Linked DNA regions of Homo sapiens. The protein of the gene in region 1 interacts with the protein of each later gene in a pairwise test. Each region holds a gene or a part of one and is shown in the gene's direction. Other genes may lie near its edges.

Region 1 (7,691 bases):
GGGCGTGGTGGCAGGTGCCTGTAATCCCAGCTACTCGGGAGGCTAAGGCAGGAGAATCTCTTGAACCCAGGAGGCGAAGTTTGTGGTAAGCCAAGAACATGCCACTGCACTCCATCCAGCCTGGGCGATAGAGTGAGACTCCATCTCAAAAATAAAAAAAATAAAAAAATAAATCATACGTAATTCACATTTCAATGATCATAAATAAGACTTTATTGGAACACAGTCTTGCCACTTTGGCATTGTTTATGGCTGTGTTCACAATACAATGGCAAAGTGGAGTAGCTGCAACAGAGCTTATGGTTCACAAAGCCTAAAATATTTCTATCTATTCCTTAACATTAAAAGTTTGCTAAGTTCTAAGATTTTGTTCTAAACTAAGTTCTAAGCTTTTGTACAATTATACTCATGAGTTTGTGAAAGTTGTAAGAATCAAAATGGAGTCACTTATTCTATACCCCGACAAATAGGAGTCGGGAGGCCATAAAGGAGGGGCTCTCATGCACACATGTCTACGTTAAAATCTATTTTTAGGTTACACTTTCTGAAAACCACAACCTTGAACAAGGCCACCACAACTTTACACAAAGACGTCTGCCTAGGAACTGTCTGTTCAGCCTTGGAGTGATACCACCCTTGTTATTGATCCTTGTAGCCAAGGTTAATAGTTTCAAAACAACTTATGTAACCTTGCTCATTTTGCCTTTAAAACCTTTGCCTTCCTTTCCCTCTCTGGGTACATCCATGGCCCTTCATGAGGTGCATACATATCCCAGATTGCAATCTTGAGGATTCACAAATAAACTCACTGTCTTTGGAGAATCTCTCTGTTGTTATTTCAGGTTGACAACTTTCTCTCTTCCCATGACAGCAAAGCCCTTTTATTTCTTTCTGTTTTTTTTTTTTAGATGAAGTTTCACTCTTGTTGCCCAGGCTGGAGTGCAATGGCGCGATCTCGGCTCACTGCAACCTCCGCCTCTCAGGTTCAAGTGATTCTCCTGCCTTAGCCTCCCAAGTAGCTGGGATTACAGGCATGTACCACCACGCCCGGCTAAGTTTTTTGTATTTTTAGTAGAGATGGGGTTTCTCCATGATGGTCAGGCTGGTCTCCAACTCCCAACCTCAGGTGATCCTCCCGCCTCGGCCTCCCAAAGTGCTGGGATTACAGGCGTGAGCCACCACACCTGGCCAACAAAGCCCTTTTCTCGTTCAAAACCCTTTCTTCCCAATCCTTACCTGATTATCCCAGCTGGCCACATAATTCTCTTCACTATCTCTCAGCATTAGTTAATATAGCTCAACACAGTTGTAAATAACTTGTAAGTTTTATATTTTAAAAATGTCTCAAATAAGTGTTTACTATCATCTCTATTTCATCATGAAGACTCCAAAGGTTAGAACTTTCTATCTCCTGTCTATTTATGTCCCGTATTTCTCTCCACACCCAAAGCAGTGCATACATTTTGGAGCCAGACAAATCCCAGTTTGCGTTTCGACTCCACCGCTCACAAAGCTGAGTAGGTTATGTAAATTTCCTGAGTCTCTTCAAGAATCTGCAGAATGGGTTTGTTATGAAGATTAAGCAGATGATGTACCATCAGGTCCAAGATTCTGGAAGTGCTCCATAACAGTAGTAATTATCAGTGGATAATTTCTTTATTTGTAATATGAAGATATTACCTTTTGCTCTTAATGAACCTTGTGGTAATGTAGTGAGAATTAAAAGAAGTAGTAAGTCATAGAAATAAAACTTCATGGTTTAATTGGAGCCCTGTGAAGACTAGCTGGAGAAGTTCAAGGCCTCAAATGAGATATTAGACTAATGAGGCTTTTGTCTAAATTTAACACATTTAACAAACCCTTCTTGGTTACTTACTGAGCTCTGCACTACCTAGGTCAAGCCTCATGTGGATATGAAAGACAGAAGGTCACATTTATCCTAGAGATTTGTATCTATATTGCAGGGGGAAAGGGATACGGACATGAGTTATGCTTATACTTGTCCATGTTTCTTTTCTCTCTCAGGAGGGATGATTCAGAGTCAGCAATTCACATATGCAGTACTGCACATGGAAAGTATTACTGTTATTCTGTGGGGAAATAAGTTTCTAAGTGCAGCAATCTGAAATTAATAACTTTCTCTGTGGAAACTCTCTTGACAACATCTCGAGATGAAGCCAAAGAGCACAATTTTTATGGCTTTGGATTATCTTCTCTGTCTGCTTGGCTTGCACCAGGCATGGATCTGTGAGCCAGAAATTCAGTTTTCCCCTTCGTTGTACAATTTGCCTGCCAGCTGGAGGCCTAATATAGCAGTGACTCAATTTCTCAATTCTCCAATTTATCCACCCATCAAATCAAGGCAAATAATCTCAATTTACTTATTAGAGGCTTTGGGGAACTCAAGAAAAAAAAGACCAAAATCTTTACCGTGACTACAAAACATTTTGGTTGAGGACATAGGAAAAGGAGATTAGAAGTTGGAGATCAATTTTCTTTTACTTTCAATGCAAAATATTTCTATGATAAAGCCTGTTATTTATATTATGATAAATATTTGTGTCCACATGCAGGGAGTATATAGATATTGAGGGAGAAAGTAATTTAGGAAAGAAATAGAAGGGTAGCAACATCTTTTCCACAAAAGCCACAGCACTGCAGACATGCATAAAGATTGCAGTTGTTGCTCCAATAGCCTTATGTGGTAGGCCGACAAATTCTTTTTTCTTTTTCTTTTTTTTTTTCAGAGATTGTGTCTCACTATGTTGCCCAGGTTGGTCTCGAACTCCTGGCTCCTGGGCTCACGTGATCCTCGAGTCTCAGGCTCTCAAAGTGCTGAGATTACAGATGTGAGCCACTGTGCCCAGTGGACATTCTTTTTTATTCTTTCTTACACGTAAATGTAGACAATCTGGACAAAGAAGTCTGGATTTCTACTTTCCACTGCTGACATTTTAAAAAATTTCAAATTAGATTTTTGCACCCTTTATACAAGACTACATGGCAGGACATTATGTTTGATTCACTGTACCTGATTACATTTAAATGTTGTTTTTCTGGATTATAAACAACAACTGAGGGACAGAGTAAGGAGGCTCTAAATAGACTTGAGAGCTTGGAATGTTGCTACATTTGTTCGCTCTCCCAGCATGTTAATATGTGAGACTAATACTTGGAAATAGCGACAGATATAGAGGAGTTTGGATGCTGAGAGAGAACTCAAAGTGAAGATGGTAAACATCTAGAGTTTTTATTGATTACAATTTTCTCATATATACAGAAACCTCAGGGTGTGTTCTAAACACAGTTCTCTTTTAAAATACATAATTAACTAAACTTCAAAATTAGAAGCTAAGACAATAATCATATTAATATAACCTCTACACTGCCAACTTGGAAAGGCAATGAAGAAGAAATGGGAATTGCAACAAGCTTCAGAGATGGAAGATTTTGTTTTTCTCTGTAGGACATGTGGGTAGAAGCAATTGCAGATGGCTGGGTGTGAAAGAAACAGACCTTGCAAGCCTGCTATATAGCTATACTGTGCTACATGGCATTGGGAGGTAATAAGATTTAAAAGACAAATACTCTTGTCTTCACAAAGCTTATAATTTAGTTGTGCAATACTGGGTAAGAAAGCTGGCTTAATGGAGTTGTATTCCAGCTTCACCCCTTAGTAGCTCTGTGTCATTGGGTGAGATATTTAATTTCTTTGGGCATAACTTCCTCATCTGTGAAACACTGATAATTGTATCTCCTATATGGCAGCTATGCCAGCCTCCTTTCTGTTCTTCCACAAGACAATCTCTCTCTGGACCGCCCTTTGCACCTGTTCCTGTGGTCGGGAAAGCCTTTAGCATGGCCAAACCCTTCAAGTTTTGACTTCATGTCACCGAGTCAGGGAGCTTTTTTGGAAAATATTGTTTCCGATTCCGCAGATGAGGCTGTTAAAATACTAAAGGATGGCATAAACATGAGGATGCTATTATAATCATCCACCCTAAGTAGGATTTGAGATCCAAGCAGTTCTCAAGGATTTAGGGTTAGCAAACTTTTTCTGTAAAATGTCAGATAGCAAGTATTATAGGGTTTGCAGGCCATACCAAACAAATGGGTGCTGCTGTGTTCCAATAAAACTTTATTTATGGACACTGAAACTTGAATTTCATGTACTTTTCACAGTCATGGTGGCAGACCGGATTTGGCCCCCTCCCTGTCGCTGGCTGACCCCTGGTTTATGAGTACGGCAGATAAAAGAAGGGAGTGAATAAGAACCACGATTCTGCTGCCAGACACGAGGGATCAGGTCGCTGCTGTGAAGATTGTCAACCTCTCTGGTTGCCAACGACCTCGAGAATGGGGTTGTGGTCCCTGCGTCAGGGCGGTTGTGCTGAAGGCTGGATGAGGGCACGTAGGTGAAGCTCAGTGCTTGGCACGAGGTGCTCATCAGCAGCATCGCCCTTGCTTTGGGCTGGCCTGTTAGTAATTCGTTTTTAGTGGAATCGAATACAACACTTGAGCCTCGGAGGCTCAGGTCGTCGGAGCAACTACACCAGGGCCGGTGCACCTCGGGGCGGCGGCGCAGGACTAGGCTAGGCCGGGCCGGGCCGGGCAGGGCGGCGCGAGTCGGGGGTGGGGCGGCGGCGCAGCGCCGTCGTCGTAGTCCCCGCCTCTTCCCCAGGGGCCGCGTCGGAGCCTCGGCGGCGGCGGCGGTGCTTACAGCCTGAGAAGAGCGTCTCGCCCGGGAGCGGCGGCGGCCATCGAGACCCACCCAAGGCGCGTCCCCCTCGGCCTCCCAGCGCTCCCAAGCCGCAGCGGCCGCGCCCCTTCAGCTAGCTCGCTCGCTCGCTCTGCTTCCCTGCTGCCGGCTGCGCCATGGCGTTGGCGTTGGCGGCGCTGGCGGCGGTCGAGCCGGCCTGCGGCAGCCGGTACCAGCAGGTAAGCGGCGCCCGACTCCAGCCCCGAACTCCGGTCCCTGGCTCTGCCCTGCCCGCTGGCCGCCTCAGGCCTCTCTGGCCGGCCCGCGGCCAACTCGACGCCGGGGCTTGGCAGGCCGCGCTGGGCCTGGAGGGGCGGGTCGGGCCCCGGGCTCGGATTCGAGGCTGCCACGGGCCCGGCCTGCCCGTCTGCGACCCCAGGTGGGACTCCGGCGGTGGAAAGTCCTCCTCCCGGCCTCGTTTCCCGCATTTCCCAGGGCGGGCGGGTCCCTGAGTCAGAACCCGCGACCCACAGGCGGCATCGATCTGAGGCATTCGTTTTTCATTTTTCCACCTTTGGTTTGATGTCATTGGAAAAGAAAGAAAGAAAAAAGCATGAAACGGAAACTGGGTGGAGAGAAAAGATTAAAATCTCTGCTGCTGCCGATAGCTCCCCACAGCAAGATGCTATTGCTCAGGGTTTCAGAGCCTAGTTTGTCGAAACCCATCCCCCTCGCCTCCGTTTTAAGACAAAAGTAAAAAATGAAGCAAGAGACAAGCCCGCAGTTTGCAGTAGATTTGGAAGAGGCGATGTTTGGCTGTGGTGATGCCCCAAAAGGGAGAGCTACGATGAAGTCTGCAGGGCGTGTGCCGGGTGTATTTTAAATGCTTGGAAGTGACGTTTTAAGAGATTTGATGGCATAGCTGGGGAGGAAATGTATAGGAAATGATTGGATCATTTTCTCGGGTTTGATTTAATACATTGAGGCCCCAGGGAAAAGAGCTGCTTGTTTCACTCCGCGTCTGTAGCTAAGTTCCCCCAGGAAATTTAGAGACCTTCTGCAGGGTTTTTGGAAGTGTTAATCTAACATACAGTAATGGTGGGAATTGAGCCAGGTGGTAAACTGATGTTGATTGGAACCGCAAATAACGGCTTGTGTTTGTCATGTTTCAGATGCTTTCGGTGCATACAGATGTCAATCCTCCTTTTATCAAATAAAATGTCCTATCTTAGACGATCTACAATTTTATATTTTAGAAGTAAGGAAAGCCAGCCAGTACGATGAAAACGTAGATTAACCCTGGTGCGGCCGGCCGGTTACTGGTTTGTTTTGCTATCATCAGCCATGTGTTGCAATCCGTCCCCACTCAGGCTTGGACTCCCAAAATGACTAGTTAAGAATTTCACTTCTTGGTTTTATAAACACGGCCCAAATTGTGGCAATGCAGTTAATCCTTAGATCTCTTCAGAGCACATGGATCTAGCACATGCTTTTTTTCTATGACCTTGGGCAGCCTGCGGGTTCCTTACTGCTTTAATAAAATGGGAATAACAGATGCCACTTAACTGTCACCACAGTGTTTGCAAATCACCCCTACTGTATACTGTCATCTGATTTCATCCTTTTCATCCTGACTTGGATAAGGCTAACGAGCAAAAGAGCTGTGGTTTTTCTTTGTACTGCCATCTTCTTGAGCTATTAGGTAATGCTGACATACTGCTAGAATATAAAAAATTTGCTGGAGTATCAAAATCATGTATTCCTTAGTGTGGCATTTAATATTTTTTAATTATGCAGAATTGAAGTATAAAAAAAAGAGAAAAAAATCTTCCTAGAAAAATTGTAAAAGATGAAAGCCCAAAAAACTGCAAAACCCTCCCTAAACAAAAACCAAATAGATAACCAAAGGTAATATTTTAATGTGCATTCTTGTGGGTTTATAGCTATGTAAATATACATAGTTATAGATCAGTATATGTGTGTACAGATAAGGAATGCAGGAAAGCTAATATTGATTTTTTTATGCAACAATCACAGTATTAAGTAATTTACATCCATTTTTTTTTTCTTTTAATTCATACCAAACCCTTATGAACCAGGGTTTGTTCTCATTGTCAAAGACTCAAAGTGGCTCAGTAACTTGCCTCAAGGTCACAGGCTGCTAAGTAGTGATTATAAGGATATACACACACTCACCTACTTAAAACACAGGCTCACAGTCCAGATATAGGTGTATGCATTAGCAGATATATACACATGCATATGTATTCTCTTATGTACCCATATATACGTATACAGACATATCTTTGTACATTTGTGTGCAGTTTTATGAGCCCCGATCATACTTGCACATACTTTTGCACGTGTCCATGTGTATCTTGTTCTCAGACATGTGCATTCATACATTTGCACATGTGTATCATGCACATGTATCTACAAAGGCATGCTAGATAAATAATGAAATAGGTTCATAATTCTATTTTGTAATGTTCTTCACACAATGTTATTAATGTCTTCTATATAAAATATTTTTAATGTCTGCATGGCATGTAATTGTATGGCTGAATCATAATTTAACTAATTGCTTATCTTTGGTCACTAAGAATGTTTACAGTTTTTTTCATTGAAATTTATTTCACATACGTCTTCAACCGTTTCCTTAGCATAAATTACTAGCCATGGAAATGCCTGGTCAGCGAATATGCATTTTTAAAAGGCTTTTGAATTATAGAATGATGGTGAATTGTCCAGGCAACTTGATAGGAGCATGATACTCTTTGGTTGTCACACAGGGCTGTTCTGACTTCTATTTGATCTGGTTAATCAAATTGAGCTAGTTTTCTCACCAAGTAAATGTAATGGAAAACTGTATGATTCATTCATAAATGCAAACACAGTTTTGTCTTTATGGTCTTTTTATTGGTAGTGTAATATGTGGACAACTTGAATTTAGCATAGTGACAGACTATGCAGAAAGGGTAGGCTCAACCAG
Region 2 (4,860 bases), on another chromosome or scaffold:
AGAGCAGATCCATAAAAAGGTATGACTTATACAATTAGGGGAAGCTAATGGAGTTTATTAGCTGAGTATCAATGTCTCTGCGTTGTACGGTGGTGATGGGTTTTAATGAATATGGACCCTGAAGCCTGGAAATCCTCATCCACGTCGAACCCACAGGACTGTGGGAAGGGCAGAATCAATCCCTAAGGGAAAGGAAACCTCACCCTGAGGGCATCACATGCACTCATGTTCAGTGTACACAGGTCAAGTCCCTTGCTCTGGGCTCTAGTTGGGAGAGTGGTTTCATTCCAAGTGTACTCCATTGTCAGTATGCTGTTTTTGTTTCCTTCACTCCATTCAAAAAGTCAAAATACAAAATTTGGCACAGCATGCCAACGGGAGGCTGTGCCCAGACCAAGCACTGGAAGTGTGCTTCTAGGCATAGTCATTGGTTTTGCAAAAAGAGGGCTCAAATTTAAATAGAAATTTACAGCTATTTGAATGGTCAGATATACCAAGAAAGAAAAATATTTCTGTTCCTCAAGAAAACTTGCTACCCTCTGTGAGGGGAATTTTGCTAAACTTGACATCTTTATAACATGAGCCAGATTGAAAGGGAGTGATTTTCATTCATCTTAGGTCATGTTATTTCATATTTGTTTCTGAAGGTGCGATAGCTCTGTTTTAGGTTTTGCTTGCGCCTGTTAATTACTGGAACACCTTATTTTTCATTAAAGGCTTTGAAAGCCAATTCTCAAAAATTCAAAAGTGCAAATTAACAGAACAAAAGGAAATCCAGTAGCAACTGCAGTCAAGCGAGGGAGTTGACAAGATAAACCTTACGTCCATTCAAGTTATATGCTGGCCTATGAGAGATGAGAGTTGGGTCGTTTGTTCTCTTTGTTGATGATTTTAAAAAAACCCTCTAGAATACACATAATAACATAATGAAAGCCATATCTCCATGATATATATGTGCACATATATATACATACATGTGCATGTATGTATCATATTAAGGACCCATGGTACTCTTAAAACACTGTAGAACTCTGTGACGCAGTAAGGAAGGGGCAGATTTGTACAAAAACTTTTCTAGATTCCATCAGCAAAAACCAACACAGGTTTGTCACGCTGCATGTCTGGCCAGCTAATCTCGGGGGAAAAGCTACAAGTTATTTATTTTATTTTAAGAGAATAAAGTAGGTAATAATTTAAGGGATCAAATTCAAGGAGGAATGTGCAATTTTAGAGCAAAGATTTGTTTAAGGCAAATGAGACTTTGGGAGCATCCCATTCCAGTTTTGTCTTTTTTTTCTCTGAAAGAAAAAAGCAAAAAATAAAATAAAATTCCACTTATACCTTCTGACAAGTCCCTAAAGGTCTTGAAATAAAAGGTTCTATGCAAGTGCAAAGTTTTATAGTTATTTTTATTGCTGATTATTACTATTACTATCTCTGTTGTCTTAAGAGTATGTGCTGATTTCAGAGACATCTCAAATTGAAAGAATATCAGATTGCTTTTAAAGTAGCTGAACGAGCCACAGAATATCTGAAATTATTCATTGTTGTTCCTCCACCACCCCCTTTCTCATGGTCTGATTTTTAGAAGAGTGGCATCCTCGTTCTAAAATGTAATGATCACCAAATACGGCCTTCCATCAAATTTGTGAAAACTACAACAGTATAACAGTGACAAACCTAATTCTCTAGCCCAAACCTGGTCTGACAATCATTTCCATTTAGAAGTCATTGAATAGTTTTCCAAACACTTTCCATGTGTGTTAGCAAATTATTCCTATTTTGTGTAGATGAGGACGTTGAGACTCAGAGACATTCAGAGGCACGCTAGAGGTCTCCAGCCTAGCTTCCAGCACCATTGGGACTGAATCCAAGTACTCTCACTCTGAACTTCGTGGTTCTGTCCACTAGAGACTCTAATATGCAAACAAGCAGTTCAGGAAAGAAAGCATGCTAACACATTCATGAAGCAGTATATGAAGTTAGAAGAACAAAAGGAAATACAGGAGATGACAAGCAACTGAGATATTGTGATATATAATCATGCTCTTAGCTTCAGCTAAATTCAGCTAAATTCTTGTACACTGAACCAATGTCATAATCAGGCTTATTTAGAAAACACTTTGAACTATGCTATAAAAGATTATATCAGAATTCATATTATACATGTGTTCACATCAGCGCTACCTGTGATGTTTTCATGTATTTATGTATGTGTTATAAATACTTGATTTATACATATACAAATGCACATACGTAGTGTGTTTGTGTGTTTATGTATAAATTTATAGGCACACAATAATAGAGGTAATTATAAGTAGGATGCGGTATGAATAATTTGCTTAAAATATGCTAAATAACCAAAACTGTTTAACGTCATGTTGCTGTTAGTGCTTCCATACTCCACGTGGGTAGGACTACATCACACTTTTCAACTCTGTGCAGTACTGCATGGGTGGAAGACATATTTAAGATAATGTGCTTCCCAAAACAACTGAATAAAAGCCATCCCACTACATTGAGTGCTTTCTCTGGCTCCTTGCAAAGAAAGATACTTTTTGTAATGGTCCAGGAAAGGAACATTGCTTTCTTTTTGTCTTTCAGCACATTTGTATTATGCTCACCTTGTCTCTGTCTCACTGTGACCCCTTTACACTTGAGTTCAGAGTTCAAGCATTCCAAATATAAATTGGAATGTTGGCAGCCCAGTGGCTTGAAGGCCAATGATGAGCAGTCCAAGACCCCACAGCGAGATGAGCAACTCTTAGGAATTCCCACATCCTAGAGTGAATGCACCAACTAACAGTATAGAATGCTGTCCTTTTCAAAGCGTCCTAACAGCAGGATTACCTGGTCAAGTATGGACTTTCTTTGAATCTTTCTTTTCACAAATTGGACTGCCTGTAATACCAATAACATTGTTGTATCTAACTAAATAAATGACTGCATATACACACATACCCTCAATTCTCTTGCTTCCCCATTTTCTTTTTCATCCCCTGTCTCAGGACTTTTATTTTCAATGTTGACCTTTGGTTTGGCCATATATCACTGTTATAGGAAATCTCATGAGAGGAATGGCTAGTGACCCAACTCTCCAAATGTCTAAGTTAGTAGTTACAGCTGATTTTTTATGATGCATAATTGGAATGTGGAGCCTCTGAGGTTGTGATAGCTTGTACATGAATTTCAAATGTCATTCTAAAGAATGAGGGGTGGGAGGGATTTATAGTTAGAAACGACAGTGCAGGAAGGGGTATTTTCTTGTTGTCAGGGCTGGAATGAATCACTGCTGCTCAAGTCAAAGGTTCTTGAATATCCTTAGTTTTTGCATTTCCCCTCCTTTTCCTTTGACCTTTATTTATTTAATTATGTATTTATTTATTTATTTATATACTTTTGCTCCATTCAGCACAAACACAAAGCAAAGCAAAAAAAAAAATATATATATATATATCTGTATATGTGTTGTAGGCAAAACACTGTGAATTTCACAACAACCACCACCAAGCAACTATTTTGCCATCTTAACATACATCTCAGGAGACGAAATGAGAAAAGATGGGGATGTCATTTTTTAGTCTATGCGTTTGAGGCCAGGTCCATGTTTATTTATTTCTTTAGTCTATGCATTAATGAAAATGATCCTGAGTGGAGGTTAGCTGAACGTTCAATGTACTGGAGCAAGCATCATAAAAGCTGCTAGTAGCCATGTGTTTGAACAGGAAAAATATTACAGAAAATGAAATGTAAAGGCCTATATCTTGCAGCTTGTATATCTTACTATTGCTTAAAAAATGTATAAAGCAGCTGGAAATGTTTTAAATACAAGGTCTTTGAATTAAATGTGGATTTTAAATATGTAATCCCTTGACAAATGACCAAATTATGGTGAACTATTGCTCCCTGCGTTCTTTGATCATTACCTATGACTTACAAATCTGCCTGGAGATGTGGACATTCTGCATTTGCTTCTGTATCTGGAGAGATGTTTGTATATATCCAGGCCGTATACACACACATTTCCATATCTCTCTACAGATATATTTCCCCTTCAATCGTGACCTGGTATTTGGAACTCTCCTTTTCATTTGGCTTATCTTCCTTTTAATGTGATGTCTCTGTGCTAATACTTACCAGTTCTTGTTTTGCAATCTGTTTTGAGGTCCATTGCTTTACTAAGACCCACTGCATCTTGGCTGATTTCAAAGTGACACCTGAATACAGTGTTTAAAAAAAAAAAAGTTTTGTTTGTAAATCATGTGACCAGCTTCTCTCAACCTGACATGGAAAGTCTCTTGTACTACAGTGTATTTAATAAAAATGATGTCTTACAATAAATAACATACTCCAAAAGAGAGACTAAAAATGACATGATGATTAATTTTTAAAAATGTATAGAATTTCCACAAGCATGGTGTTCTCTTTATTCTATATGTATATATGTCTGTGTTTGGTTTTGGTTTTGTTTAAAGACAGGTTCTTGTAATGTTGCCCAGGCTGGAGTGCACTGGCTATTCACAAGCATGATCATAGCTCACTGCAGACTCAAACCCCTGGGCTCAAGCCATCCTCCTGCCTTAGCCTTCTGACTCCCTGGGCTCAAGCCATCCTCCTGCCTTAGCCTTCTGACTCCCTGGGACTATAGGTGCACACCACTGCACCCAGCTATATGTATGTATTTTTAGATAGGATCACTGTAGATGCCTGTAGTGCTCATTAGTTGAAGGTAGTGAGAGTAAGTGGTTAGTCATAGAAATAAGTTTCCTGTCTGATCTATCCATAATTCTGATATTTTCAACTTACACCTTAGATAACTAGAACATCACTGTCAATTGCTTTACTTTCTGAAACAATATA

What was found.
Region 2: the proteins of NDFIP1 (region 1) and NTRK2 interact in a protein complementation assay, tested with the Homo sapiens proteins (one study listed by BioGRID).

Annotation. Positions count from the first base shown.
Region 1 is NC_000005.10:142,104,100-142,111,790, forward strand, and holds the start of NDFIP1 (NEDD4 family-interacting protein 1), read left to right. Parts: upstream 1-4,679; 5' UTR 4,680-4,875; coding exon 4,876-4,938; intron 4,939-7,691. UniProt on the Homo sapiens protein: Activates HECT domain-containing E3 ubiquitin-protein ligases, including NEDD4 and ITCH, and consequently modulates the stability of their targets. As a result, controls many cellular processes.
Region 2 is NC_000009.12:85,022,699-85,027,558, forward strand, and holds the end of NTRK2 (BDNF/NT-3 growth factors receptor isoform a precursor), read left to right. Parts: 3' UTR 1-4,356; downstream 4,357-4,860. UniProt on the Homo sapiens protein: Receptor tyrosine kinase involved in the development and the maturation of the central and the peripheral nervous systems through regulation of neuron survival, proliferation, migration, differentiation, and synapse formation and plasticity.